5 separate regions of the Homo sapiens genome follow, and all the other regions are linked to region 1. Evidence: fine-mapped QTL for protein levels in blood plasma. A gene starts in region 1. Each other region holds a variant in brackets. All regions are shown on one strand. Distances are between the middles of the regions. Region 1 holds the start of AGRN (agrin). Region 2 holds the start of RNF223 (ring finger protein 223). Region 3 overlaps AGRN (agrin). Region 4 holds the start of HES4 (hes family bHLH transcription factor 4). Region 5 overlaps C1orf159 (chromosome 1 open reading frame 159).

Evidence for each region. PIP is the posterior inclusion probability: the model's chance that the variant is causal. The UK Biobank Pharma Proteomics Project read protein levels with antibody pairs (Olink). The fine-mapping took linkage between variants from a reference panel, not from the people measured, so its PIPs are less certain.
Region 2: its variant is fine-mapped to the plasma level of the AGRN protein (UK Biobank, PIP above 0.99).
Region 3: its variant is fine-mapped to the plasma level of the AGRN protein (UK Biobank, PIP 0.98).
Region 4: its variant is fine-mapped to the plasma level of the AGRN protein (UK Biobank, PIP 0.92).
Region 5: its variant is fine-mapped to the plasma level of the AGRN protein (UK Biobank, PIP above 0.99).

Annotation. Positions count from the first base shown.
Region 1 is chr1:1,016,947-1,022,025 of GRCh38, forward strand. It overlaps AGRN (agrin), which reads left to right and starts at 3,174. Exons shown (of 36, transcript NM_198576.4): 1 at 3,174-3,427. The coding sequence starts at 3,227. RefSeq lists a silencer at 2,488-2,937 and an enhancer at 4,446-5,079.
Region 2 is chr1:1,073,555-1,078,651 of GRCh38, forward strand. RNF223 (ring finger protein 223) reads right to left here and starts at 752. Exons shown (of 2, transcript NM_001205252.2): 1 at 462-752. RefSeq lists an enhancer at 445-944. The variant A/G (reference allele first, on the strand shown) is at 2,161.
Region 3 is chr1:1,030,597-1,035,693 of GRCh38, forward strand. AGRN (agrin) reads left to right here. Exons shown (of 36, transcript NM_198576.4): 3 at 4,681-4,728. Among named protein-coding and RNA genes, the nearest start is that of AGRN, 13 kb to the left of the region's middle. RefSeq lists enhancers at 1-128, 1,869-2,738 and silencers at 2,252-2,431, 2,492-2,631, 2,612-2,732, 2,652-2,961, 3,377-3,526. The variant C/A (reference allele first, on the strand shown) is at 2,250.
Region 4 is chr1:999,091-1,004,187 of GRCh38, forward strand. HES4 (hes family bHLH transcription factor 4) reads right to left here and starts at 1,007. Exons shown (of 4, transcript NM_021170.4): 1 at 776-1,007; 2 at 602-697; 3 at 436-523; 4 at 1-342. The coding sequence starts at 883. RefSeq lists silencers at 1-282, 833-972, 1,043-1,422, 1,523-1,572, 2,650-2,999 and an enhancer at 3,050-3,189. The variant C/G (reference allele first, on the strand shown) is at 2,780.
Region 5 is chr1:1,100,861-1,105,957 of GRCh38, forward strand. All of the region lies in intron 1 of C1orf159 (chromosome 1 open reading frame 159), which reads right to left. Among named protein-coding and RNA genes, the nearest start is that of C1orf159, 13 kb to the right of the region's middle. The variant G/A (reference allele first, on the strand shown) is at 2,556.

The sequences.
Region 1 (5,079 bases):
ATCACAAGCGTGAGTTACCGTGCCCTGTCTGTATTTATAGTAGAGACAGAGTTTCACCATGTTGGCCAGGCTGGTCTCGAACTACTGACCTCAAGTGATCCGCCCACCTCGGCCTCCCAAAGTGCTGGGATTACAGGCCTGAGCCACCACGCCCGGCCCGTCGACTAATTTTTTTTTTTTGAAACAGTCTCGCTCTGTCACCCAGGCTGGAGTGCAGTTGCACTGTGTCCAGAATTGGTGGGTTCTTGGTCTCACTGACTTCAAGAATGAAGCCACGGACCCTCGCGGTGAGTGTTACAGCTCTTAAGTCGGCGCGTCTTCAGTTCGTTCCTTCTGATGTTCGGATATGTTCGGAGTTTCTTCCTTCTGGTGGGTTCGTGGTCTCGCTGGCTCAGGAGTGAAGCTGCAGACCTTGGCGGCGAGTGTTACAGCTCTTAAGGCAGCGCGTCTGGATTTTTTGTTCCTCCCGGTGGGCTCGTGGTCTCGCTGGTTTCAGGAGTGAAGCTGCAGACCTTGGCGGTGAGTGTTACAGCTCATAAAAGCAGTGTGAACCCAAAAAGTGAGCAGTAGCAAGATTTATTGCAAAGAGCGAAAGAACAAAGCCTCCACTGTGTGGAAGGGGACCTGACCGGGTTGCCACTGCTAGCACCGGCAGCCTGCTTTTATTCTCTTATCTGGCCCCACCCACATCCTGCTGATGGGTAGAGCCTAGTGGTCTGTTTTGACAGGGCGCTGATTGGTGCATTTACAATCCCTGAGCTAGACACAAAGGTTCTCCACGTCCCCACCAGATTAGTTAGATACAGAGTATCCACACAAAGGTTCTCCAAGGCCCCACCAGAGTAGCTAGATACAGAGTCCACTGGCACATTCACAAACCCTGAGCTAGACACAGGGCGCTGATTGGTGTATTTACAAACCTTGAGCTAGATACAGAGTGCCGATTGGTGTATTTACAATCCCTGAGCTAGACATAAATGTTCTCCAAGGTCTCACCAGAGTAGCTAGATACAGAGTGTCCACTGGCGCATTCACAAACCCTGAGCTAGACACAGGGTGCTGATTGGTGTATTTACAAACCTTGAGCTAGATACAGAGTGCCGATTGGTGTATTTACAATCCCTGAGCTAGACATAAAGGTTCTCCAAGGCCCCACCAGAGTAGCTAGATACAGAGTGTCTGTCTATTGGTGCATTCACAGACTCTGAGCTAGACACAGGGTGCTGATTGGTGTATTTACAATCCCTGAGCTAGACATAAAGGTTCTCCACGTCTCCACCACTCAGGAGCCCAGCTGGCTTCACCCAGTGGATCCCGCACTGGGGCTGCAAGTGGAGCTGCCTGCCAGTCCTGCGCTGTGCACCCGCACTCCTCAGCCCTTGGGTGGTCATGGGACTAGGCACGGTGGAGCAGGGGGCAGCGCTCATCGGGGAGGCTTGGGCCGCACAGGAGCCCACGGAGGGGGTGGGAGGCTCAGGCATGGTGGGCTGCAGGTCCCCAGCTCTGCCCCGCCGGAAGGCAGCTAAGGCCTGGCGAGTAATCGAGTGCAGCGCCAGTGGGCTGGCACTGCTGGGGGACCCACTACACCCTCCGCAGCCGCTGGCCCGGGTGCTAAGCCCCTCATTGCTCCGGGCCGGCAGGGCCGGCCGGCTGCTCCAAGTGCGGGGCCCACCAAGCCCACGCCCACTCGGAACTCCAGCTGGCCCGCAAGAGCCGCGCGCAGCCCCGGTTCCCGCTCATGCCTCTCCCTCCACACCTCCCTGCAAGCTGAGGGAGCCGGCTCCCGCCTTGGCCAGCCCAGAAAGGGGCTCCCACAGTGCAGCGGTGGGCTGAAGGGCTCCTCAAGTGCCACCAAAGTGGGAGCCCAGGCAGAGGAGGCGTGAAGACCGAGAGAGGGCTGTGAGGACTGCCAGCACGCTGTCACCTCTCAGCACCATCTCAGCTCACTGCAACCTCCGCCTCCTGGGTTCAAGCGATTCTCCTGCCTCAGCCTCCCAAGTAGCTAGGACTACAGGCGCCTGCCACCACACCGGCCAATTTTTGTATTTTTAGTAGAGACGGGGTTTCACCATGTTGGCCAGGCTGGTCTCGAACTCCTGACCTCCCGTGATCCACCTGCCTCAGCCTCCCAAAGTGCTGGGATTACAGGCGTGAGCCACTGCGCCCGGCCCATCCAGCTAATTTTTAATTTTTTTGAGAGATGGGGTCTTGCTATTTTGCCCAGGCTAGTCTCGAACACCCGGTGTCAAGAGATCTTGCTGCCTCCGCCTCCCAGAGTGCTGGGATGACAGGCGTGAGTCACCACGCCCAGCCTAGACACAGTTCTGAAGGGACAAAGGGGGCCTCCGCTCCCTCCTTTCAATCTTCAGCTAGGCCAGGCTCCCACTTGGGTCCTCCAGCCCTCAGTTTCCCCCTGCACCCAGCCAGGCCAAGCTGCAGAGGCGCCCGGCCCAGAGCTGGGAAGGGGCGTGGCGGGACCCGCGCTTGCAGCCGCGGGACGGAAGGGGGCGCGAACCTCCCCGCGGCGGGGCCTGGGGGGGCGGGGCCGGGAGGGGCGGGGCCGCGCCCCGTGCTGGCCAATCAGCGCCCGCCCCGGCACCGGGACCCGCCTCCGCGCCGCAGCTCCCGGGGGGTCCGGCCCGGCCGAGCCTCGGTGTCCGGCCCCGCGGGGGAGGGGCGCGGCCTGCGGAGCGGGATCGGGGCCGGGTCTGGGGCCCCTCCCGGCGGCCTTCGAGCCCTGCCGCCCGGCTCCGCGCCGCCCGGAGCCCCTCGGCAGTCCCGTCACGTCTCCTCCAGATTAGGCATTAACTCGGGTGCAGCCGCACTTCCGGGGGGCCGCGGCGGGGGAGGGGCGCCTGCGGGATCCAGACCCGCCCCCCACTCTCCTCTCCCCGCCCCCTCCCGGGCCGCCCCTTTCCCGCCCCACGGCCGCGCCGGGCGCTGCGTCCCGGGGCTTTGTTCGCGGCGGCGCGGGTCGCCGGCCTCCGGGCGGGCCGGGGGAGGGAGGAGGGAGGGGGCGGGAGGGGGAAGGAAGGAGGAGGGGGAGGAGGAGGGCGCGGGGAGGGGGTAGGGGGGCGGGGAGGAGAGAGGGGGAGGGGCGCCGCCCTGGCCCCGCCCCCCCCCGCCCGCCCGCCCGCGCTCCGCCGCCTCCGGAGCTGCGTCCCGTCCTGTCCAGTCCCGTCCCCGGCGCGGCCCGCGCGCTCCTCCGCCGCCTCTCGCCTGCGCCATGGCCGGCCGGTCCCACCCGGGCCCGCTGCGGCCGCTGCTGCCGCTCCTTGTGGTGGCCGCGTGCGTCCTGCCCGGAGCCGGCGGGACATGCCCGGAGCGCGCGCTGGAGCGGCGCGAGGAGGAGGCGAACGTGGTGCTCACCGGGACGGTGGAGGAGATCCTCAACGTGGACCCGGTGCAGCACACGTACTCCTGCAAGGTGCGCCCACCCGGACCCCGGCCTCCCCTCGCGACGCCTGCCGCCCCGCCGGGACCCCCGCCCCAGGCCGTGGGAACCAGCCCCGGTCGCTCCGCAGCCCCCGCTCCGGCTCCCTTGGCGACCGCCAAGCCCCGGGAGGGGGGGTCGCCGGGTCCCGGGAAACTCGCGGGCGCCGGGGAAAGTTGCTGCGCCGCCGCCGTCCTCCGCCCGCCGCCGCCTCCCTCCTCGCGGAGACAAGTGCACCTCGCCCACGGACTGCGGCTGCCGCGCGCCCTCCCTACCGGCCGAGAAGGAGAGGGGCCTGGGGAGGGGGGGCCTTTGCCCGGGCGGGGAGCGGGGGCTGGGCCTGGGATCCGCTTGTTCCCCTCCCCAGAGGCCTTTCCCGGGGCGAGAGGGGTTGGTCAGGAGAGAAAAAGGGGCGCACAGCCTGAGCTCCCAACCCCGGGAGCCAGGTGGGGGGTGCCGCAGTGGTGCGGGGGGGGGGCGTGCAGGAGCAGAGAGGTGGGCGGGGCCGTCACCGGGCCTCGTGTGCTTGGGGGCAGGGCCGGTGCCCCATCGCGCTCCTGCGGGAACCGGGGCTCCCCACCCCGGGGAGGGGAAGTTTCCCTGGTTTCTCCTTCAGGTGCTTCTGGGAGCCCCCGGGGTAGGTACGCTGGGACCCCCACCATCTTCTCCTAGTAGGGGCTCGGGGGACCCAGAGCCGGCGCCCGTGTACCCCCAAAACCATCTCCTGGGACCAGAAATCCACTCATTTCCCTCCACGGAGGTGGAGAAGGTGGCAGCTTCTTTCAGACTGGCCGGTGCGGGCTACAGCTGGGCTCCCCCGCCGGCCCAGTCTCCTCCACAGCGGCCAGGGCACTTTGCCAGGCCCCTGCAGGATTTTCCCGACTTCCTCCCCGCTGCTCCTGGGTGTGGCTGGGGTGGGGGAAGGCGATGAAAGCCACCAGGCCCTCCCCCTGCCTGGGTCATCTGCCTCCTGGAGCCTACTGTTGGGGGGCGTGGAAGAGGCTCTGCCTGCGCAACTGGAGGGGGTCCCTGCGGATGCCGCAGTCCTGAGGCTCCCAGCAGGGGCTGCGCAGTGGACAGGCCAACCATTGTCTCTCCCCCCATCCGGCAGCCCCAGCCCCCCAGATCTGAGGAAGGGGCTGCTTCTCCCGGCTTTGTTCTCAGGGGAGTGCGTGAGTGCGTGGGTCCCTGTCCCCGTGAGGGCCGCCAGGTCGGCTGTAGCCTTTACCACAGGCCACCGTCAGAGCAGCTGCCCTCAGGGCCCCAGGAGCTGAGAAGGTGGAGGGTGGGGCACCCTGCACTGCCCAAACTTGATTTCGTGGTTCACAGGCTGCCCTGAGTGCACAGACTGTAGAAGCCCGAGGAAGGGGCGTCTCAGCCCAGCCACAGGGCCAAGCTGGCCCCTTACCCCAACGCCCCATCCCCCTCCTCCACTGCCCAAGCTTGCTGGGAGGTGGGCCCTGAGCACTGGGCAGGTGGGGAGAAGTGTGGAAGGCAGGCACCCCAAGCCAGGTGGGCCCCCTTCCCAAATTCGGCCTTAGCTGATAGGGACGTTATTGGAGCTGGGGTGGCTGAAGTTGGTTAGACCTGGGGGAGGGGATGTGTTCACAGGTGACGCATCTCTGAGCGTTCCCGCATGGGCTGTG
Region 2 (5,097 bases), 57 kb after region 1:
CCCCTGGGCATGGCTCAGGTGGGCATCTCAGCTGACCTGGGACCCTGCTCCACCTCCCGCCCCTCCCCTGCACCCAGGATCCGCTGCAGGGAGCCACAGGGGTCCCACCTGGAGGGAAGTGGGCAAGGGTGACAGTGAGACTCAAGGGCCTGGCCGTGCGTCCCCGTGGGGCCCAGGAGGCTGCCCCAGAAGTGACTCCTGGCACTGCCCCGCCCCACCCCTGACTTGCCAGTGAGTCCCAGACAGGCTGGCGGGATGACACAGGTCACTGTGACCACCTGAGTCACACGCCGTCACTGTGAGGCCGTGAGTGCCCCAGGCACCGGGACCTGGGGACTGTGCTCTGCGGCCTGTGTACCCCACAGAACCGGTTCCTTGGCACGAGGCCCCACCCCTCCACGATGGTGCCCCACCCTGAGCCTGTGCAGGTAAGGGGTGAACACGGGCTGAGCTGGCCTTACCTGGTGGCCGGGGGTCAGCGGGCCTGGGCGTGGTCCTCCTCGCCGGCCACGGTTGGGCTCCAAGGCCCTGGGCTGCCCTGCCGTGGCAGTGTCTGCTTCCTCTTCTCCGGGCCCGGCCCGGCCTGTGCTTCACCCAGCAGGTATCCCTCCCCGGGGCCGGCCACCAGCAGCTGTCCCGGTGGCACTGGTCTGGCAGGTGTGGCTTCTGCTCTGTCCAAGACAGGCGGGGACACAAGGAATGCGTGCGCCGTCACCCGCACAGAGCTCTGGTCTGAGGCAGGTGTGAGTTGCTGGGTGTGGGCTCCCAAGCAGGTCTATTTATACCCTATGGGCCAAGGGTGTGGCCGCAAGCCTCAGGGATTGGCTGGCTTCATCCTCTCCTTGGCGGGCCAGGCAGCTGGAGGGCAGGGAGGGAGGGGTGAGGGTCGGAGCCGGGTAGGGGTCAGCACAGCCGCTGCAGCCTGGGCAGGTCTGGGCTGGGGTGTGTGCTTGGACAAAGCCCTCTCTCCCTATAGCCCCAGGAGGCTGGAGCACCTGCTGGAAGCTGCTCACCGCAGTTCCAGGTCCCTGTGGCCCCTGAGCTCCTGGGTGGGCCTCCTAGCAGGGGCCCTCCCCGAGCCCCCCACAACCTATGCCCAGCCTGCCCCTGCCCTTTGCTCACTGCTGCCTGCCCTCACAGCCCATTCCTGCCACTTCCCTGCCCACACCCACCCATGTGCTCACCTGCCTCATCCATACACATACGTGGCTGCTCTCACACATGGGCCATGTGTTCACACGCTCTATGCCCCCGTGTCCACAGGCTCTCACACACGTGCCGTGTCCGGAAGCTCACATATGCCATGTCCACACTCACACACGCCGTGTCCACACTCACACGCCGTGTCCACACTCTCACACACATGCCATGTCCACATGCTCTCACACACGTGCCCTGTGTCCACACACACACACATGCCATGTCCACATGCCCTAGCAGACTACAGGACTGGTCTGTGCAAAGACCAGGGCTGGAGCTGGTTGAGAGTCTGGGGGCTGAGGCTGGCAGGGCTGGGATGGAGGATGTGTGGGTCTCAGAGGAGCAGCCAGTGGCATGGGCTGCCCCGTCCCCCGCACACCCCGCTGTGGGCCCGAGGGCCTGGTGTAGAGCTGCACCCCCAGGCTGTCCAGCTGCCAGCTCCCCACCTCACTGAGGCGTCTCTCTCCCAGCCCAGTGGACCTCATGCAAGGGGAGGTCCGACCCGGCTGCCACAGCCCCATCCCCGCCATGAGGCCTGGGCCGGACCTGAGCTGGGACTCCACACACCAGCCTGGGGGGGTGCCACACTGGGTGGGGCTGGGAGTGAGGGACCCACCCTAGTGGGAGAGCTGGCCGGGCCACCCCACAGACTGCCCTCAGGCAACTCCCATGCAGGTGCCCGCCGACCCCTCAGTAGGGACCCAGAGGCTCCCCCAGGGCTGCCGCGGGCATCCTGGAGCCCAAGGGATGCTGGGAAGTGGGAACCAGGACTGCAGAGGCCAGGGGGCAACACCCCGAGGAGGAGCACAGGGACTTGGGCTCAGGAAGGGCCGGACCCCTGCCAGTTCCATGAGGACTCTCAGTCGGGGGTTGGGGGGACCCCTGCCAGTTCCATGAGGACTCTCAGTCAGGGGTTGGGGGGACCCCTGCCAGTTCCATGAGGACTCTCAGTCGGGGGTT[A/G]GGGGGGTTCAGAGAGCGGATTTGGGTGCTCAGACAGGGAGGGGTGGATGCTCAGAGAGCGGGGCGCGGGCTGGGGCTGGGCTTTCAGACAGGGAGGGCTGGGGACTCAAGAGCTGGGGAGGGGTGGGAGCTCTGTGAGGGGCTCCGTGCGGGGTGGCTGAGGCTATGGGAACTCTGTGGGGGGAGGCTGAGGCTATGGGGACTCCGTGGGGGGAGGCTGAGGCTATGGGGACTCCGTGCCGGGAGGCTGAGGCTATGGGGACTCCGTGGCGGGAGGCTGAGGCTATGGGGACTCCGTGGGGGGAGGCTGAGGTTATGGGGACTCCGTGCTGGGAGGCTGAGGCTATGGGGACTCCATCGGGGGAGGCTGAGTCTATGGGGACTCCGTGGGGGGAGGCTGAGGCTATGGGGACTCCGTGCCGGGAGGCTGAGGCTATGGGGACTCCGTGGGGCAGGCTGAGGCTACGGTGACTCCGTGCAGGGCTGTGAGGCTACGGGGACTCCGTGGGGGGTGGCTGAGGCTACGGGGACTCCGTGGGGGGAGGCTGAGGCTACGGGGACTCCGTGGGGGGAGGCTGAGGCTACGGGGACTCCGTGGGGGGAGGCTGAGGCTACGGGGACTCCGTGCTGGGAGGCTGAGGCTATGGGGACTCCGTCGGGGGAGGCTGAGTCTATGGGGACTCCGTGGGGGGAGGCTGAGGCTATGGGGACTCCGTGCCGGGAGGCTGAGGCTATGGGGACTCCGTGGGGCAGGCTGAGGCTATGGTGACTCCGTGCAGGGCTGTGAGGCTACGGGGACTCCGTGGGGGGTGGCTGAGGCTACGGGGACTCCGTGGGGGGAGGCTGAGGCTACGGGGACTCCGTGGGGGGAGGCTGAGGCTACGGGGACTCCGTGGGGGGAGGCTGAGGCTACGGGGACTCCGTGGGGGGAGGCTGAGGCTACGGGGACTCCGTGGGGGGAGGCTGAGGCTACGGGGACTCCGTGGGGGGAGGCTGAGGCTACGGGGACTCCGTGGGGGGAGGCTGAGGCTACGGGGACTCCGTGGGGGGAGGCTGAGGCTACGGGGACTCCGTGGGGGGAGGCTGAGGCTACGGGGACTCCGTGGGGGGAGGCTGAGGCTACGGGGACTCCGTGGGGGGAGGCTGAGGCTACGGGGACTCCGTGGGGGGAGGCTGAGGCTACGGGGACTCCGTGGGGGGAGGCTGAGGCTACGGGGACTCCGTGGGGGGAGGCTGAGGCTACGGGGACTCCGTGGGGGGAGGCTGAGGCTACGGGGACTCCGTGGGGGGAGGCTGAGGCTACGGGGACTCCGTGGGGGGAGGCTGAGGCTACGGGGACTCCGTGGGGGGAGGCTGAGGCTACGGGGACTCCGTGCCGGGAGGCTGAGGCTACGGGGACTCCGTGCGGGGAGGCTGAGTCTACGGGGACTCCGTGAGGGGTGGCTGAGTCTATGGGGACTCCGTGCGGGGAGGCTGAGTCTATGGGGACTCCGTGCGGGGTGGCTGAGGCTATGGGGACTCCGTGCCGGGAGGCTGAGGCTATGGGGACTCCGTGCCGGGAGGCTGAGTCTATGGGGACTCCGTGCCGGGAGGCTGAGTCTATGGGGACTCTGTGCCGGGAGGCTGAGGCTACGGGGACTCCGTGCCGGGAGGCTGAGGCTACGGGGACTCCGTGGGGGGAGGCTGAGGCTACGGGGACTCCGTGGGGGGAGGCTGAGGCTACGGGGACTCCGTGGGGGGAGGCTGAGGCTATGGGGACTCCGTGGGGGGAGGCTGAGGCTATGGGGACTCCGTGGGGGGAGGCTGAGTCTATGGGGACTCCGTGCCGAGAGGCTGAGTCTATGGGGACTCCGTGCCGGGAGGCTGAGTCTATGGGGACTCCGTGCCGGGAGGCTGAGTCTATGGGGACTCCGTTGGGGGAGGCTGAGGCTATGGGGACTCCGTTGGGGGAGGCTGAGGCTATGGGGACTCCGTTGGGGGAGGCTGAGGCTATGGGGACTCCGTGCGGGGAGGCTGAGGCTACGGGGACTCCGTGGGGGGAGGCTGAGGCTACGGGGACTCCGTGGGGGGAGGCTGAGGCTACGGGGACTCCGTGGGGGGAGGCTGAGGCTACGGGGACTCCGTGCGGGGAGGCTGAGGCTACGGGGACTCCGTTGGGGGAGGCTGAGGCTACGGGGACTCCGTGGGGGGAGGCTGAGGCTACGGGGACTCCGTGGGGGGAGGCTGAGGCTACGGGGACTCCGTGGGGGGAGGCTGAGGCTACGGGGACTCCGTGGGGGGAGGCTGAGGCTATGGGGACTCCGTGCCGGGAGGCTGAGTCTATGGGGACTCCGTTGGGGGAGGCTGAGGCTATGGGGACTCCGTTGGGGGAGGCTGAGGCTATGGGGACTCCGTGCGGGGAGGCTGAGGCTATGGGGACTCCGTGGGGGGACGCTGAGGCTATGGGGACTCCGTGGGGGGAGGCTGAGGCTATGGGGACTCCGTGGGGGGAGGCTGAGGCTATGGGGACTCCGTGGGGGGAGGCTGAGGCTATGGGGACTCCGTGGGGGGAGGCTGCGTCTATGGGGACTCCGTGAGGGGTGGCTGAGGCTATGGGGACTCCGTGGGGGGAGGCTGAGGCTATGGGGACTCCGTGGGGGGAGGCTGAGGCTATGGGGACTCCGTGGGGGGAGGCTGAGGCTATGGGGACTCCGTGGGGGGAGGCTGAGGCTATGGGGACTCCGTGGGGGGAGGCTGAGGCTATGGGGACTCCGTGGGGGGAGGCTGAGGCTATGGGGACTCCGTGGGGGGAGGCTGAGGCTATGGGGACTCCGTGGGGGGAGGCTGAGGCTATGGGGACTCCGTGGGGGGAGGCTGAGGCTATGGGGACTCCGTGGGGGGAGGCTGAGGCTATGGGGACTCCGTGGGGGGAGGCTGAGGCTATGGGGACTCCGTGGG
Region 3 (5,097 bases), 14 kb after region 1:
AGATCAGCGTGTGTGTGTGTGCAGTGCATGGTGCTGAGTGTGAGATCAGCATGTGTGTGTGTGCAGTGCATGGTGCTGTGAGATCAGTGTGTGTGTGTGCAGTGCATGGTGCTGTGTGAGATCAGCATGTGTGTGTGTGTGTGTGCAGCGCATGGTGCTGTGAGATCAGCATGTGTGTGTGTGTGTGTGTGCAGTGCATGGTGCTGTGAGATCAGCATGTGTGTGTGCAGTGCATGGTGCTGTGAGATCAGCGTGTGTGTGTGTGCAGTGCATGGTGCTGTGTGAGATCAGCATGTGTGTGTGTGCAGTGCATGGTGCTGTGAGATCAGCGTGTGTGTGTGTGCAGTGCATGGTGCTGTGTGAGATCAGCATGTGTGTGTGTGTGCAGTGCATGGTGCTGAGTGTGAGATCAGCATGTGTGTGTGCAGTGCATGGTGCTGTGAGTGTATCAGCATGTGTGTGTGTGCAGTGCATGGTGCTGTGAGTGTGATTGTGTGTGTGTGTGTGCGGTGCATGGTGCTGTGTGAGATGTGTGTGTGTGCAGTGCATGGTGCTGTGTGAGATTGTGTGTGTGCAGTGCATGGTGCTGAGTGTGAGATCAGCATGTGTGTGTGCAGTGCATGGTGCTGTGAGTGTATCAGCATGTCTGTGTGTGTGCAGTGCATGGTGCTGAGTGTGAGATCAGCATGTGTGTGTATGTGTGTGCGGTGCATGGTGCTGTGAGTGTGAGATCAGGGACCAGGGGGCTAGTACTCTTTCCTGCACATGAGCCTGCGTGGGCTGGTCAGGGCTGAATGATTTTGTCTGAAGATCCCAAAATAGCTCATGTCGCCTGAGCTCCCTCCCTGGCTGGGCCTGGGGCCTCAATGGCCCTTTGTCTTTCTGAAGGCATCTGGGCCTCTGTGGGGGGCTCAGACACTGACTGGGGCTGGGTGGGGCCAGGCTGCCTGCCTGGTTCCCCTTCCCCTGGCCCAGCCCAAGGGGCCCTAAGCCTCATTCCAGTGTCGGCCTGGGGCAGCCAGGCCCCCCACGTGACTTTCAGCTTGTTGGGCCCCCTTTGCTGGCAGATCCCAGGGTCTCTCTGTGTGGGGGCAAACTTCCCAGGCAGTGTTTGAGGCCCCCTCTGCCAGCCCGTACCTGGGGCTCCCCCACCCCTCCCACATTGTGGTACCTGTCCTCCTCCTGCAGAGCCCGCCCAGAGATCCCATGGCTGAAGGTGGTGGCAGCAGGCGGGCTGGCGCGTGACCTGGTAGCACGGCCTGGGTTTGACCCTGGCACTGCCCCTGGGACTCAGAGCTGGGAGGTGAGAAATGGGGAATGCATGTGAACCACCTGCCTCTGCACACAGCAAGTCCTGTTCTGGGTTTTCTCATCCCTGGGTCACACCCTGCGCTGGGGAGATAAAAAGTCAGACCCTGCCCGGGGCACCCACAGTCAGCACCGCCGGAACACTGTCAGCCTGGTGTGGACAGTGCCAAGGTCCAGCAGGGTGGGGTGGTTGGGGTAGGAGCTCCCCTGAGGAGAGAGTGAGGCCAGCAGGGGTGGGTCTCCAAGTGCTTCCTTTGACAGCTGCTCTGGATGGGACGTGGCTTGGGGTGGGTGAGAACCCTTGGCTGAGTTTGGATTTTCCTGCAGGGTTTCATTGGAACACCAGGTTCCAGGGCCGTAGAGATGTGGAGGCCTCCTGTCTGGGTGATGGGGCATGGTGCTGGTCCCTGGCTGTGGGGTGGAAAGGAGTCCCAAGAGAGGGAGCTGGCAAGACAGGACCTTCCCAGCTAAGGTGGGGTTGGTGGGATTTGGCTGGGGCCCTTGGAGGAGCCTGACCAGGAGGTGAGACAGGGCACCTGGAAGGAAGGAGGCGTTGGGGAGAGTCCAGATGGAGGCCATGGGGTTGAGGGGCCCAGACACCCGGCTGGGGGACTCCAGGAAGGCAGCAGGTGTGGGCAGTGGGTCCTCTGGGGTGGACTGAGGTGAGGCCTGGGTGTGACCACGCGGTGGCACTGGTGGCTGCCGGCAGCTGTCGTCTGCAGAGTGGGTGAGACCGAGTGTGGCAGATGGCTTGGTCCGCGGTGCTGGAGGGGACTGGCGGAGCAGAAGCGCCCTGGCGCCGGGTCCTTGCTTTCCTGGAGCTGGGGCTTGGGGAATGGGGTCGGTCATTGCAGGGACAGAGGAGAGGGCAGGGTAATGGGTGCGCAGGGGTCCCTTCCAAAGGCTGCGGGTGGCCAGGGGTGTGCGGGGGCGCTGAGGTG[C/A]GGTCGCCGAGAGATTCTGGCCTCCAGGGTGGTCGGGCCTGGCATGGACTCTAGGGGATGGTGCACACACCGGACCGGACGGGCCCCTCCCTTACCCCCGGATCCCCCGGCTGGGCAGCGGCCAGGGAGAGGGGCGACCTACGGGGGCGGGTGTGGGGACGCCGGACTACGCGTCAGGAGTCCCAGATGGGCCCAGACCCCCATTCCCCGCCCCGGGCCGCAGTGACGTCAGGGCCCGGACGTTCCCGGAACGGCCTCTTGGGGGCGTTCCAGCCCCACGGACCCGCAGGGAGTCCCCGCCGCAATTTGCATGGGGCTCATTTGCATGACCCCGCCCCGCGCGGGAGTCGGGGGCGCCGGCGACTGGAGGAGCCACTGTCAATCCCCAGGGGAAAGTGGGCGAGGCGATTTCTGGGCCGCTCACCTCACTCCACCCTCCAGCTCGCGCCGCACCTGGGGCCCTCCCCCACCTACGCCCCGCCAGGGCGGGGCCGCGGGCGCAGACACTCGCGGGCACACGCACGACGACGCGCACACGCGGTCGCACGCGGCCCCCCGAGCCCCCTGCGGCGACTCCGATTCACCCCCGCGGGTGCGGGGCGCGGACCCGCCCGGCCCAGCTCCTGCTCCCCAGGCGCTTCCTCCTCCCGCGACCTGCCCCGGCCGCACCCGCCTCCGCTCCAGCACGCGACGCTGCCCGGCGCGACCCCTGCTCCCCCGGCCCAGCCCCACCGCTGCCCTCGACTCAATCCCAGTTGAACGCCCGCAGCCTCAGTCCCACCCCCGGCCCAGCCCCAGCGCCCCCAGTCCCACCCCCGGCCCCAGCTTCAGCCTCAGCGCCCCCAGGCCCAGCCCCAGTCCCACCCCCAGTCCCAACACCTTCAGGCCCACCCTCGGCCCCAGCCTCAGCCACCCCAGCCCCAGTCCCGGCCCAGCCCCAGCCCCAGCGCTCCCGGCCCCGGGCCCAGCCCCAGCCCCAGCCCCAGCCGAGCACCCCCGGCCCCGCCTGCCCGGCGTTCCCTTTTGTGCGGCGCTCTCCCGTCCGCATCCGCCCGATCCTCTGGAACTCCCCGCGGACGCCGGGGTCCCTGGAGGCGGCTTCCTTTGTCTCTGCTCCCGCCCTCCCTCCGCGGCGTCTTCGCCCCTCACTCACCTCCCCAGCCCCGCGGGGACGAGGGGAGCTGGAGGGAGCCCGGGACCCGGCGCGGCCTCCGCAGGCGGCGCTTTCTTCTCGCTCCCGACGCGGCCGCCCCTCCTGCCTGCCCGCTCCTATCGCCGCTTCCGCCTCTGCCGGGGACGGGGACAGCAGACCCTCGGCGCCCGGCCCCCGCGCACCTGCCGCGCGCACCGCCTCTCCGGCCTGCGCGGCTCCGGGGGCTCCGGGAAGACCGAGCGCTGGCGGCCAGCCCGGGGAGGCTGTGGGCAGCAGGGGTGGCTGCGGGCTCCCAGTCCCTCCTCCGCCTACCTCGGAGCCCACATTTGGGATTTCTACTCCGGGAGAATTCTGCCCTCCTCCCACGATGAGCCTGGAGGACTGGAGCCGGGACCTGGCACCCCCAGGGCTGTGACTGGGTGAACTCTGAGGGCACAGCTGCTGTCCGCCGCCCCAGGGGTCCCAGGATGGGGCGAGCAGCCCTGAAGAGGCCCAAGGGCACCCCGTGAGGAGCCCCCACGCTCTGAGAGTGGGGCGCAGAGCCGGAGCCCCGGGCCATGCCTCCGCTGCCGCTGGCGCGGGACACCCGGCAGCCGCCTGGCGCCTCCCTGCTGGTGCGAGGCTTCATGGTGCCCTGCAACGCCTGCCTGATCCTGCTGGCCACCGCCACGCTCGGCTTCGCGGTGCTGCTGTTCCTCAACAACTGTAGGTGGCCGCGGGCGGGGCGTCGCACTGGCCAAGCCCCAACCCCGAGGCCCCTGCACATAGAGGCTGGAGGCCGCGGCGGGTCCGCGGGGCTCCCGGCAGCTTCCCGGGGATGGGATGGGTCACTCTGCGGACCCCTCGGTCCCTGGAGGCCGTCCTTGGGCTCTCAGTGGGCCTGGCCCTCACCCAAAGCTGCAGAAACACTTTCTGCGGGAGCTGGGGAGGGAGGGGCAGCCGGCTACACTGAGAGCCGGCAGTTGGGGGTAGGGCAGGACCTGCGGTGGACTCTTCCAGGGAAGGGGGTCCTGCCTGCACCCCTGTGGCTGGGGCCCCATCTGACAGGGGTCAGGCCATGACTATTTGGCTGGAGGGGCAGAGAAAAGCAGGGGCCTCTGTCTCAGACCTCAGCCAGCCCATGGGGTCAGGGCTGGACCCTTCAGCAGCCTGGATCCCTGGGGCTAGCGGTGGGGGGGGGGGGGTGGGCAGGGGTGCCCCTTTCCAGGCTGGGCAAAGGGATGGGACAGGGAGGAGCCTGCTCAGAGGAGCCTAACTTGGGGATTTGTTTTCTTCCAGATAAACCCGGGACCCACTTCACTCCAGTGCCTCCGACGCCTCCTGATGGTGAGTAGGGCTGAGTTCGGGGGACCTGGATGGGCTGTGGCACTCTTGGGAGTCAGGGGCCATTTGGAGGTGTGCACCCAGACGTGTGGAGTGTGTCTGGAGTGAGGAGGAGGCTGGACAAGGGCACCTGCGTCTGTCCTGGGAGTCCGCAGCGGTGGGCCGCAGTAGGAACTCGGGGTCTAGAGGCCGCCGCCTGACGGCACTGGACCTCGGCTCTCACTTCTCTGGGCCTCAGCCCCCTCAGCCTCAAAACTGGGAACAAGTCCTGGGACCCACAGGTTGTGAGGTGATGTCAGACCTGTAGGGCAGGGCCAGAGTCCGGTCAGGGGGCTCCGCTCTATTGTCCTCCCTTCTCCCTGTTCAGCAAGG
Region 4 (5,097 bases), 18 kb before region 1:
GGCCCTGCGGCCCCGCCCTGGGGGCGGCGGGCAGCGCCCGGGTCAGACCCGGCAGCAGCGGCGGCGCGAGCAGAGGGAAGGGGCCGCCGAGCGATGGCAGCAGCGGGCGGCCCGCGTAGACCTCGGGCGCTGGGGCCTCTGCGGGGGCAGCCGGGGACAGCGAGGCCGGGCGGCGGGAGGGTCCCAGCTGGCGCAGGCAGGCTGCCAGGTGGCCCAGCAGGCGGGAGCGCACGTCGGCCGGGACGCCCTCGCAGCCGGCCAGGAAGCGGTTCACCTCCGCCAGACACTCGTGGAAGCCGGCGCGGTACTTGCCCAGAACGGCGGGGTCGGCGCTGAGCGCGGCTGCGGGAGCGACACAGGAGGAGAGGTCGGTGCCGGGTCCCGGGGGTCCCGCGCCCTCCCCCCGCCTCCAAGCCGCCGCCGCCCGCGCCTCACCCGTCACCTGCACGCGACGCAGGCTCCGCAGGTGTCTCACGGTCATCTCCAGGATGTCCGCCTTCTCCAGCTTCGAGTGGCGGGAGCTCTGGGGGCGGGGATAGGCGGGAGGTCCAGGTCAGCTGCGACCCAGACTCCGGGTCTCGGGCCTTCGCCCCCGACTTACCTCTTTTCTGAGGGCGTCCAGGATGAGGGTTTTGAGCTGAGCGAGGCTCTCGTTAATACGCGCTCGGCGCCGCTTCTCCATGACCGGCTTGGAGGACTGCGGGTCGGGCACCGGCTGAGTCCCGCGTCCCTCCCGCCCCCCGGTCGCCCCCCTCACGCCCGGCCGGGACCCCACCTTGCGGTGCTCGGCCGCGCTCCGGGGCTTGTCTGGGGTCCGGCTGGCGCTGGCCGGCGCTCCTGCCATCGGCGAGGCGCTCGGTTTCCCCGGCGTGTCTGCGGCCATGGTGCGCCCCGCGCCTCCCCGTGCCGGGTGGAGCGCGCCGCCACGGACCACGGGCGGGCTGGCGGGCGAGCGGCGAGCGCGCGGCGATCCGAGCCCCTAGGGCGGATCCCGGCTCCAGGCCCGCGCGCGCCTCAGGCCGTTTCCCTATTTAAGGCCTCGCCGCCGCGGGGTGTGTGAACCCGGCTCCGCATTCTTTCCCACACTCGCCCCAGCCAATCGACGGCCGCGCTCCTCCCCCGCTCGCTGTCAGTCACGCCTCGGCTCCGGGCGCGGCCTCCGCGGGCGACAATGGCATGCGGGGCCCCCGCCCGCGCCCCCCTCCGACACCGCTGGGGACAGGGCCGGGTGATCCCGCGCTCCCCGATGCAGCCGGGGCCGAGCAACGCGCCGGGAGGGGCCGCTGGGGGCGAACGGGGCCCGGGACCCCCGGGGCTGGGCGGAGTCTCGGGGCTCACTCTCCCGCCCAGGGGGCCGGGAGCCGGGGCTGGACGGAGCTGGGGCTGTGGCCGCGCGGGAAGTCGGGAAGGAAATTCCCCCAGTGGCGCAGGGTCCGGCGGCGCCGAGGGGTGGGCGAGCCTCGGTCTCGAGCCTCTTGGCTTCCTCCGCCCGTCCCCACTCCGGTCCCGGTTTGGGCCCTGCTCGGTCTCCGAGTTTGATCCGACACCGGCTCGGCCTCCGGGGGTCCCACCCTCAGGTGTGCGGCCTGGAGCACGGAGGGCTGCAGAAAGCCTTGGGAGCGACAGAGCCGGGGGAAGGTCGGCGGCCGGGTCGGCAGGCGGGAGGGCGGAGTCAGCGGACGGCGAAGGGGCGCACGGGTGGCCCCGCAGAGCAGGGCCGGTGATGGCGCGGGCCGGGCCGGACCACGAGGAGCAGAACGTGCGCGTGACGCGAGCGGGCTGGTGACGTCACCAGGCACCCGGGGCGATGACGCAAGCCTGCTGGGATGACGTCATGTGGCCCGTGTCGCCACGTGCTTCCAGGTGACCCGCTGGCGAACTCAGCAGCAGCAAAGTGGGGCTCACAGAAAAATGAGGGGCCACTGTTAATATAACTGCAAAGGGGCAGGTTGCGTAAAACAGGGCTGTGGTTATTTTCGTGTTTGCTGTTTTTATTTCGAATGCCGCTGCGGGGCACGTTGGTCCTTTCCGCACTCGGGGTCCCCGGCGGCCTCACGCGTCCGTGCAGCGGAGGCTTCCTGAGCCCCCTGGAGAGCCTGGCCTGGGCCCGGGTGTGGAGACCCTCCCGGGCTTTCAATCCGGGCAGGAGGCAGATGGCAGACTCAGCAGTCACGTAAGAGAACCGAATTAGGTGGGTGGCCTGGGTGGACAAAAGCCTTCTTGACGCCGGGTGGTCCCAAAGGCTTCTGCGGGGTGGGGGGTCCTCAGGGGGGAAGCCTCAAGGGAGGGCGTGGCATTCCCAGGGTGCGAAGGGGGCGCAGGGACGAGGGAGGTGGGGAGGGGGAGCTGGGCCAGCGAGAACCGGGAGCTTCTGGTCGGGGAGGGAGTCGGGGAACTTTTTGGGGAGCTTTTCTGAGCCAGGGAGTCGGCTGATTGGCAGGTTCGCCCCTGCCCGGGCACCTGGACCCAGGGTTTCTGTGCGGAAGCTTCCCCTCCCCTCGGACCCCACGTCTAATCTGGCCCCAAGCAAAGTCCTGCGGCCCACGCGGGAAGGCGCCCTCTTCGCGGCGCTGACCCCGGCCCTCCGCGGTGCCCCTGAGGCGCCCCCCACACCCCGCCGCTTGCACAGGGGCGCGGGGGGCTGCGAGGCCGGAGCGGGGGTGGCGCCCTCTCCGCCGAGAGGCTGTCCGCGCCCCTCGCCGACTGGGGAAAGCCGCGGGGGCTGGGCGGGCGTCTCGGAGGTGGCCCCGCGAGCACTTAAGCCCCGGCTCTCCTGCCC[C/G]GACCTCTCTGCGCGCGCCTCGGCGCTGGAGAGGCTCGGACCGGCCCCGTAGCCCAGGAGGTGGTGTGGATGGTGTCCCCGTCCCGCGTCCCTCCCCGGCCTGAGCGCTGGGCCCGGGCGGGAAAGCCCGCGAGCGCCCCCAGTGGCCGCAGTCGCCGCCGCCTCCTGCTGGGGGTCATCCCAGGGGAGCTGCCGGCCTGAATCTCCCCAGCCCCTGGGCCCCGGCTTGGGAAGAAATTTGGGGGGGCTCTGGGCCTCCCCCAGTCCCTAGACAGGCAGGGAGTTCGGGATGGAAGGAGGAGCCTGAGGATCGTTTTTATTTATTTTTTTTTTGTAGAGATGGGGATCTCCCTATGTTGCCCAGGCTGGTCTCGAACTCCTGGCCCGAGACGATGCTCCTGCCTCGGCCTCCCAACGTGCTGGGACTACAGGCGTGAGTCTCCTCCCTGCCAAGCGTGGCTGGGACTGATCATTCCCTCACTGGTTTTTAGATGGGCTCACTTCCCCTCCTTGTACCTGTTTTCTCATCTGTAAAAGGGAGCTAACTTTTTTTTTTTTTTTTTTTTGAGGCAGCGTCTCGCTCTGTTGCCCAGGCTGGAGTGCAGTGGCACCACAACCTTTGCCTCCCGGGTTCAAGCGATTCTCCTGCCTCAGCCTCCCAAGTAGCTGGGATTACAAGCATGTACCACCACGCCCGGCTAGTGTTTTGTATTTTTAGTAGAGATGGGGTTTCACTGTGTTGGCCAGGCTGGTCTTAATAGGAGATTCTACTTTTTTTTTTTCTTTTTTGAGACGGAGTTTCACTCTTGTCGCTCAGGCTGGAGTGCAGTGGCACGATCTGGGCTCACCACAACCTCTGCTTCCTGTATTCAAGCGATTCTCCTGCCTCAGCCTCTGGAGTAGCTGGGATTACAGGCGTGTGCCGCCACACCTGGCTAATTTTTGTATTTTTAGTAGAGATGTAGTTTCTCCATGTTGGTCAGGCTGGTCTCAAACTCCCCACCTCAGGTGATCCACGCACCTCAGCCTCCCAAAGTGCTGGGATTACAGGTGTGAGCCACCGTGCCTGGCCAGGAGATTCTACTTTTAAAGCCACTGACGGCGTCCAACTCATAGTGAGCACCCACGCCCATCTGCCAGGGTTCCTGCCCCTGGGCAGCAGCTGGGGTCCTTGCTGAGCAGAGGCAGGAGGGGCCACCAGCACTTGCCTCTGCTCTTCTGGAGAGGAAGAGACCCCCCTGCTCCCTGCCCCCTGCCAGGGAGCCCACTCCAGGATCTCCGGGGACTGTGTTCCTCCCACCTTCTTTGCCACAGGACAGCTCCCATCTGTGTGTCTGTCTCTCTGGGTCTGTGCCCTTGGCCTCTGATGGTCCCCTCCCTGCCTCTCGAATCTGGCCTCGATTTGTGGTAGGGGCCTCAGGGTTCCTGAGGGCCTTGGGGTTCCCTTGCTCTGAGTGTGGGGGTGGATCCTGGGCTGCAGCCCAGGATGGTGCCGACACCTGGGTTGGGGGCAGGTTGCGTTTTTCAGAGACGGCCGTGATAGTATCTCCCATCCCCATATCTTGAAATGCCTTCTACATGAGACTCTGTGACAGTCTCAGCTGGGAAGAATGGGGTGTTTGGCAGGACATGACTTCTGAGGCTGACTTGGAAGACGCCATGCGTACCTCGCTGTCCTGGGACAGTCGCTCTTGGAACCCAGCTGCCGTGCTGGGAGGGAGCACGCCCTGGCCTCAAGGAGAGGCCCCGTGGAGGAATCAGCATTGGATTCCAGACTCCTGAGCAGCTTCCGGCGCAGGTCCCAGCGCGCCCCGTTCCAAGGCTGCCCGCACACAGTAGGGTGGTTGCTGAGCGTGCTGTTTTGGGGTGGTTTGTGGTGCGGCACTCAAGACTGGAATAGTGGAGGTGGGCTGGGGCCCTGACCCAGGGAGAGTGACCCTTCCCTCCTCACCCCTGCTCCCTCCTCGCTGATCCCTTCCTCTCTTCCACAGAGGCAGAGGCTCAGCGACTTCCCCACCCCTCCCCCCCATCTAACGGGTGCTTCTTGGGAGCCACTGAAATCCAGCCGACCTCCTGGCCCTGAGTGGGTCAAGCTCCAAATGGCGGGTGGCCCCGGGGCATCTGCACAGCCCCCTGTTAGCTAAGGGGGGTGACTGATGAGGACATTCACACGCCAGTGGGGAGACTGTGGGGAAAACCGGGGTGTCTTCTAGGCTGGACCTGGGGGGGCCTCAGCCTTGTTGGGGGGTCTCCTCACATTGGGCCACTGTGGCCGCACTCCATGACCACAGCCAGTGTCCCCAAAAGGCCTGTGAGGT
Region 5 (5,097 bases), 84 kb after region 1:
CACCTTGCAACTGTACAGTCCACGGATCCCCTCTACTACTCTTCACGTTGTGGCTGTCATATCTGCATACATTATAAACCCAAGAGATGTTTTAATTTTTCCCCAGATATTTACTAATTTTGATGTTCATCATTCATTCTTAAAGATCTGAGTTTCACTGTAGTATATACTATCTTCAGCATTTCCGGTAGCACAATTTGATGGTGACAAATTTTATCAGTTTTCCTTTTTCTGAAAATATTTTCATGTAATGTTTATTCTTAGAGAATACAGAATTCTATGCTTTTTTTTTCTTTCAGCAGTTCCACTTTCTTCTGGTCTCCATAATTACTCACAAACTTGGTCGGGCGTGGCAGCTCACGCCTGTAATCCCAGCACTTTGGGAGGCCAAGTGGGTGGGTCACTTGAGGCCAGGAGTTTGATGCCACCCTGGCCAACATAGCAAAACCCCATCTCTACTAAAAATACAAAAATTAGCTCAGCATGGTAGCACACGCTTGTAGTCCCAGCTACTTGGGAGGCTGAGACACAAGAATCGCTTGAACCCAGGAGGCAGAGGTTGCAGTAAGCTGAGACTGTACCACTGCACTCCAGCCTTGGTAACAGAGCAAGACTGTATAAAAAAAAATTTTTTTTTAAATCTCACAGACTCAGTCTATCAGCTCATGGTCTATCAGCTCAGGGTCTGTCAGCTCATGGTCTATCGGCTCAGGGTCCATTGGCTCACATCTATCAATCAGCTCAGTCTATTGGCTCAGGGTCCGTCGGCTCATGGTCTATCAATCAGCTCACAGTCTGTCGGCTCACGGTCTATTGGCTCATGGTTTATCAGCTCAGTCTTCACAGTGCTGTGCTGTGTGTGATCTGTTGTTTTTCTCTGGCTGCTTTCAAGATTTTTAAAGTTAATCTTTAGTTTTTAATAGTTTTAGGGCTGGGTGTGGTGGCTTACACCTGTAATCCCAGCACTTTAGGAAGCTGAGGCAGGCAGATCCCCTGAGGTCAGGAGTTCGAGACTAGCCTGGCCAACATGGAGAAACCCCGTATCTACTAAAAATACAAAAATTAATCGGGCATGGTGGCACGGGCATATAGTCCCAGCTACATGGGAGGCTGAGGCAGGAGAATCGCTTGAACTGGGAGGTAGAGGTTGCAGTGAGCCGAGATCGCACCACTGCACTCCAGCCTGGGCGACAACAGCAAAACTCTGTCTCAAAAAAAAAAAAAAAAAAAAAAAAACAAACTTTTGAAGTGATGGGTCCAGGTGTGGTTTTATTCTCATTTATCCTGTTTGGGATTCTTAAAACTAAACATTTATGTCTTTCACCAAATTTGAAAGTTTCTGGTTACTGTTTCTTCAAGTACTTCTGTCCACTGTGCCTCTCCTCTCCTGGACCTCTGTAATTACCCATGTGTTAGACATGTTGATATCACCTAAGGTCCCTGAGGCTTAGATATCACCTACAGGTCCCAGAGGCTCTGTTCATGGTTTTGTTTTATTTTCCTCCAATCACTTCCACCCTTTTTTTTTTTTCCAGCTTGGATGATTTCTATTCCTCTGTCTTTGAGGACTCTGCCTATTTTCTCTGTTATTTCCCTTCTGTTATGTTCATTCAGTGAATTTTAAAATTTCAGATCTTGGCCAAGCACAGTGGCTCACGCCTGTAATCCCAGCACCTTGAGAGGCTGAGGTAGGTGGATCACCTGAGGTCAGTTCAAGACAAGCCTGGCCAACATAGCGAAACCCTGTCTCTACTAAAAAAAAAAAAAAAAAAAAAAAAAAAAAAAAAAATTGCCAGGCGTAGTGGTGGGCACCTGTAGTCCCAGCTACTCAGGAGGCTGAGGCAGGAGAATCACTTGAACCTGGGAGGCAGAAGTTGCAGTGAGACGAGATCGTGCCACTGAACTCCAGCCTGGGTGACAGAGTAGAACTGTCTCAAAAATAAATAAATAAAATAAAATTTCAGATCTTGTTTTTTTTTGAGACAAGAGTTTCACTCTTGTCCCCCAGCCCCAGGCTGGAGTGCAGTGGCATGATCTGGGCTCACTGCAGCCTCTGCCTCCTGGGCTCAAGTGATTCTTTGCCTCAGCCTCCCGAGTAGCTGGGATTACAGGCGACCACCACCAAGCCCTGCTAAATTTTTGTTGTTGCTGTTTGTATTTTTAGTAGAGACGGGGTTTCACCATGTTGGTCAGGCTTGTCTTGAACTCCTGACCGCAGGTGATCCACCTACCTCAGCCTCCCAAAGTGCTGGGATTACAGGCGTGAGCCACCACGCCCAGCCAGATCTTGTGTTTGTTTGACCTAAAATTCCCATTTGGCTCATTTAAACATGTTTCCTCGCTGAGATTTCCGGCACTTTGTTCATTATGCGTGCATTTCCCTTTTCTTCACTGAGCACAGACACTAAACCTGCTCCAAAGTGCTTTTTTGACTATTCCAACAGCTAGGTCATAACACAATTGATATCTGTTGTCTTTCCCTTCGAGAATGGCTCACATTTTCCTGGCTCTTCATATGTTGAGTGATTTTGAACTGTACCCTGTACATTGCAAAC[G/A]TTACATTGTGAAGACACTGGAATTCTGTGATATTCCTCTGAAGAGAATCAATGTTTCTACTTAGCAGGCAATTAATTTCATTAGATTCAAACTGCAAACGCTGTCACACCTGCGGTGAGCGGTGGCTCAGGTCACTGCATGGCACAGGGTGCACGCAGGGGTCAGGGGTCTGCCAGAAACGAGCGGCATCTATACACAGGACTCCTCCCCTCTGGCTCTTTCTGGGGCTTCTACTCTCTTTTTCGAGGAGCTATGGGTGCCTAGCTCCTTCCCCTGCCTGCTCCTGGAACAAGGAAGATAGCGTACTTTCTTTTTTGCTTGTTTGTTTTCTGGAGACACATTCTCCCTCTGTCGCCCAGGCAGAAATGCAGTGGCAGCGATCCTCTCACCCCGGCCTCCTGAATAGTTGGGACCTCAGGTGCACACCATTACACCCAGGTAACGTCCTTTTCTTTTGTAGAGACTGTGTTGTCCAGGCTGGTCTCAAATGCCTGGCCTCAAGCAATTCTCCGTCTCAGCCTCCCAAAATCCTGGGATTACAGGAGTGAGCTGCCCTGCCAGATAGTAGAATTTTTACTTTTTTTTTTCTGAGACAGAGTCTCGCTCTGTCACCCAGGCTGGAGTGCAGTGGCGCAATCTCAGCTCGCTGAAGCCTCTGCCTCCCAGGCTCACGCGATTCTCCTGCCTCGGCCTCACGAGTAGCTGGGATTACAGGCACCTGCCACCACACCTGGCTAATTTTTTGTATTTTTAGTAGAGACGGGGTTTCAGCATGTTGGCCAGGCTGGTCTCAAACTCCTGACCTCGTGATCCACCTGCCTCTGCCTCCCAAAGTGCTGGGATCACAGGCGTGAGCCACTGCACCCGGCCCAGACAGTGGACTTTCTATCAGTGCGTTAGTCACCCCACACTATCATGTGGGGACTGTGGCTGCCCTCAGGGCAAAGATGCAAAAACAGGAAACTGTGCTGGTTGCTTCCTCCAAGTCAAAACTTCCCTCCAAAATCTGCCACTCTCCAGAGCCCTCAGGGAGCTGTTTTTCATACTCTGTCCATGGTTATAGTTGTGCTATGGCAGGGTCACTCTGTTAGAAGTTTACTCTTTCCCACTGAAGTAGAACCCCATCATACGGCTTTCTGTGTCCAGAAACCAAGGCGATTTTAGTTTCTAGACGGTGGGCGCTGGTGTTGCTTCCCAGGTGCTCAACTCTGGGCAGTAACAAGCCTGCATGGTCTGGACATGGTGGCTCACACCTAGAATATCAGCTACCTGGGAGGCTGATGCAAGAGGACTGCTTGAGCCCAGGAGTTCGAAGCCGAAGTGCAGACGCATTCAAGCTGGTCGAGCCGGGAACGCACCTGCACTCCAGCCTGGGCAACAGAGCGAGGCCCTGTCTCAAAGGAAAAAAAAAAAGCTTTGGCAGCAGGGAACTTGGAGAACATGGGCTGAAAGGATAAGTCTTTTTGTGCTACAGATCCTGGGTCTCCAAGGGATGTAAACCTGTTCACTGTCCAACAACAGCAGCAATCAACACTTCCAGAGCACTTGCCACATGCCAGACACCACGCGAAGGGATTTATACACACAAACTGATTTCACTAATTTCAACAATGCCCCTTATCGCCCCACTTTAAATATGAGGAAAAGACTTGCATAAGACCACACTGTGAGTAGGCGGCAGGGTTAGGCCCAGGCCAGGCCCTCTGGCTCCAGAATAAACTGGAGTCTGATGGTTTTCAACTGCAACACTCAACAAATATGTTCAGTATGTCTGGCCAACTACCGTAAAAGTTTATAGAAATTTTCAATTTAAGAAGTAAAGGCCAGGAGCAGTGGCTCACACCTGTAATCCCAGCACTTTGGAAGGCTGAGGCTGGAGGATCGCTTGAGGGCAGGAGTTTTAAGACCGGCCTGGGCAATACACCGAAACCCCTTACAGAAATCAGCCAGGCGTGATGGCACATGCCTGTGATCCCAGCTACTTGGGAGGGAGGTGGGAGGATCGCTTGAGTCCAGGAGGTTGAGGCTGCAGTGAGCCGAGATCGCGCCACCACACCCTAGCCTGGATGACAGAGTAAGACCCCATCTCAAAAAAAAATAAATAAAAAGTAAAGGCATTGGATTTAAAAAACAATATACCCTTAAATATTAGACTATTAACTAAAGTAAAAATAATAAGTGTGGACCACGCATGGTGGCTCACACCTGTAATCCTAGCACTTTGGGAGGCCGAGGTGGGTGGATCACGAGGTCAGGAGAGTGAGACCATCCTGGCTAACATGGTGAAACCCTGTCTCTACTTAAAACACAAAAAAATTAGCTGGGCGGGCGCCTGTAGTCCCAGCTACTCGGGAGGCTGAGGCAGGAGAATAGCATGAACCTGGGAAGGTGGAGCTTGCGGTGAGCCGAGATAGCACCACTGCACTCCAGCCTGGGCTACAGAGCGAGACTCTGTCTCAAAAACAAACAAATAAATAAATAAATAGATAGATAAATAAATAAAATAGTAATAAGTGTGTTGTAGAATTTTCTAGCATACCT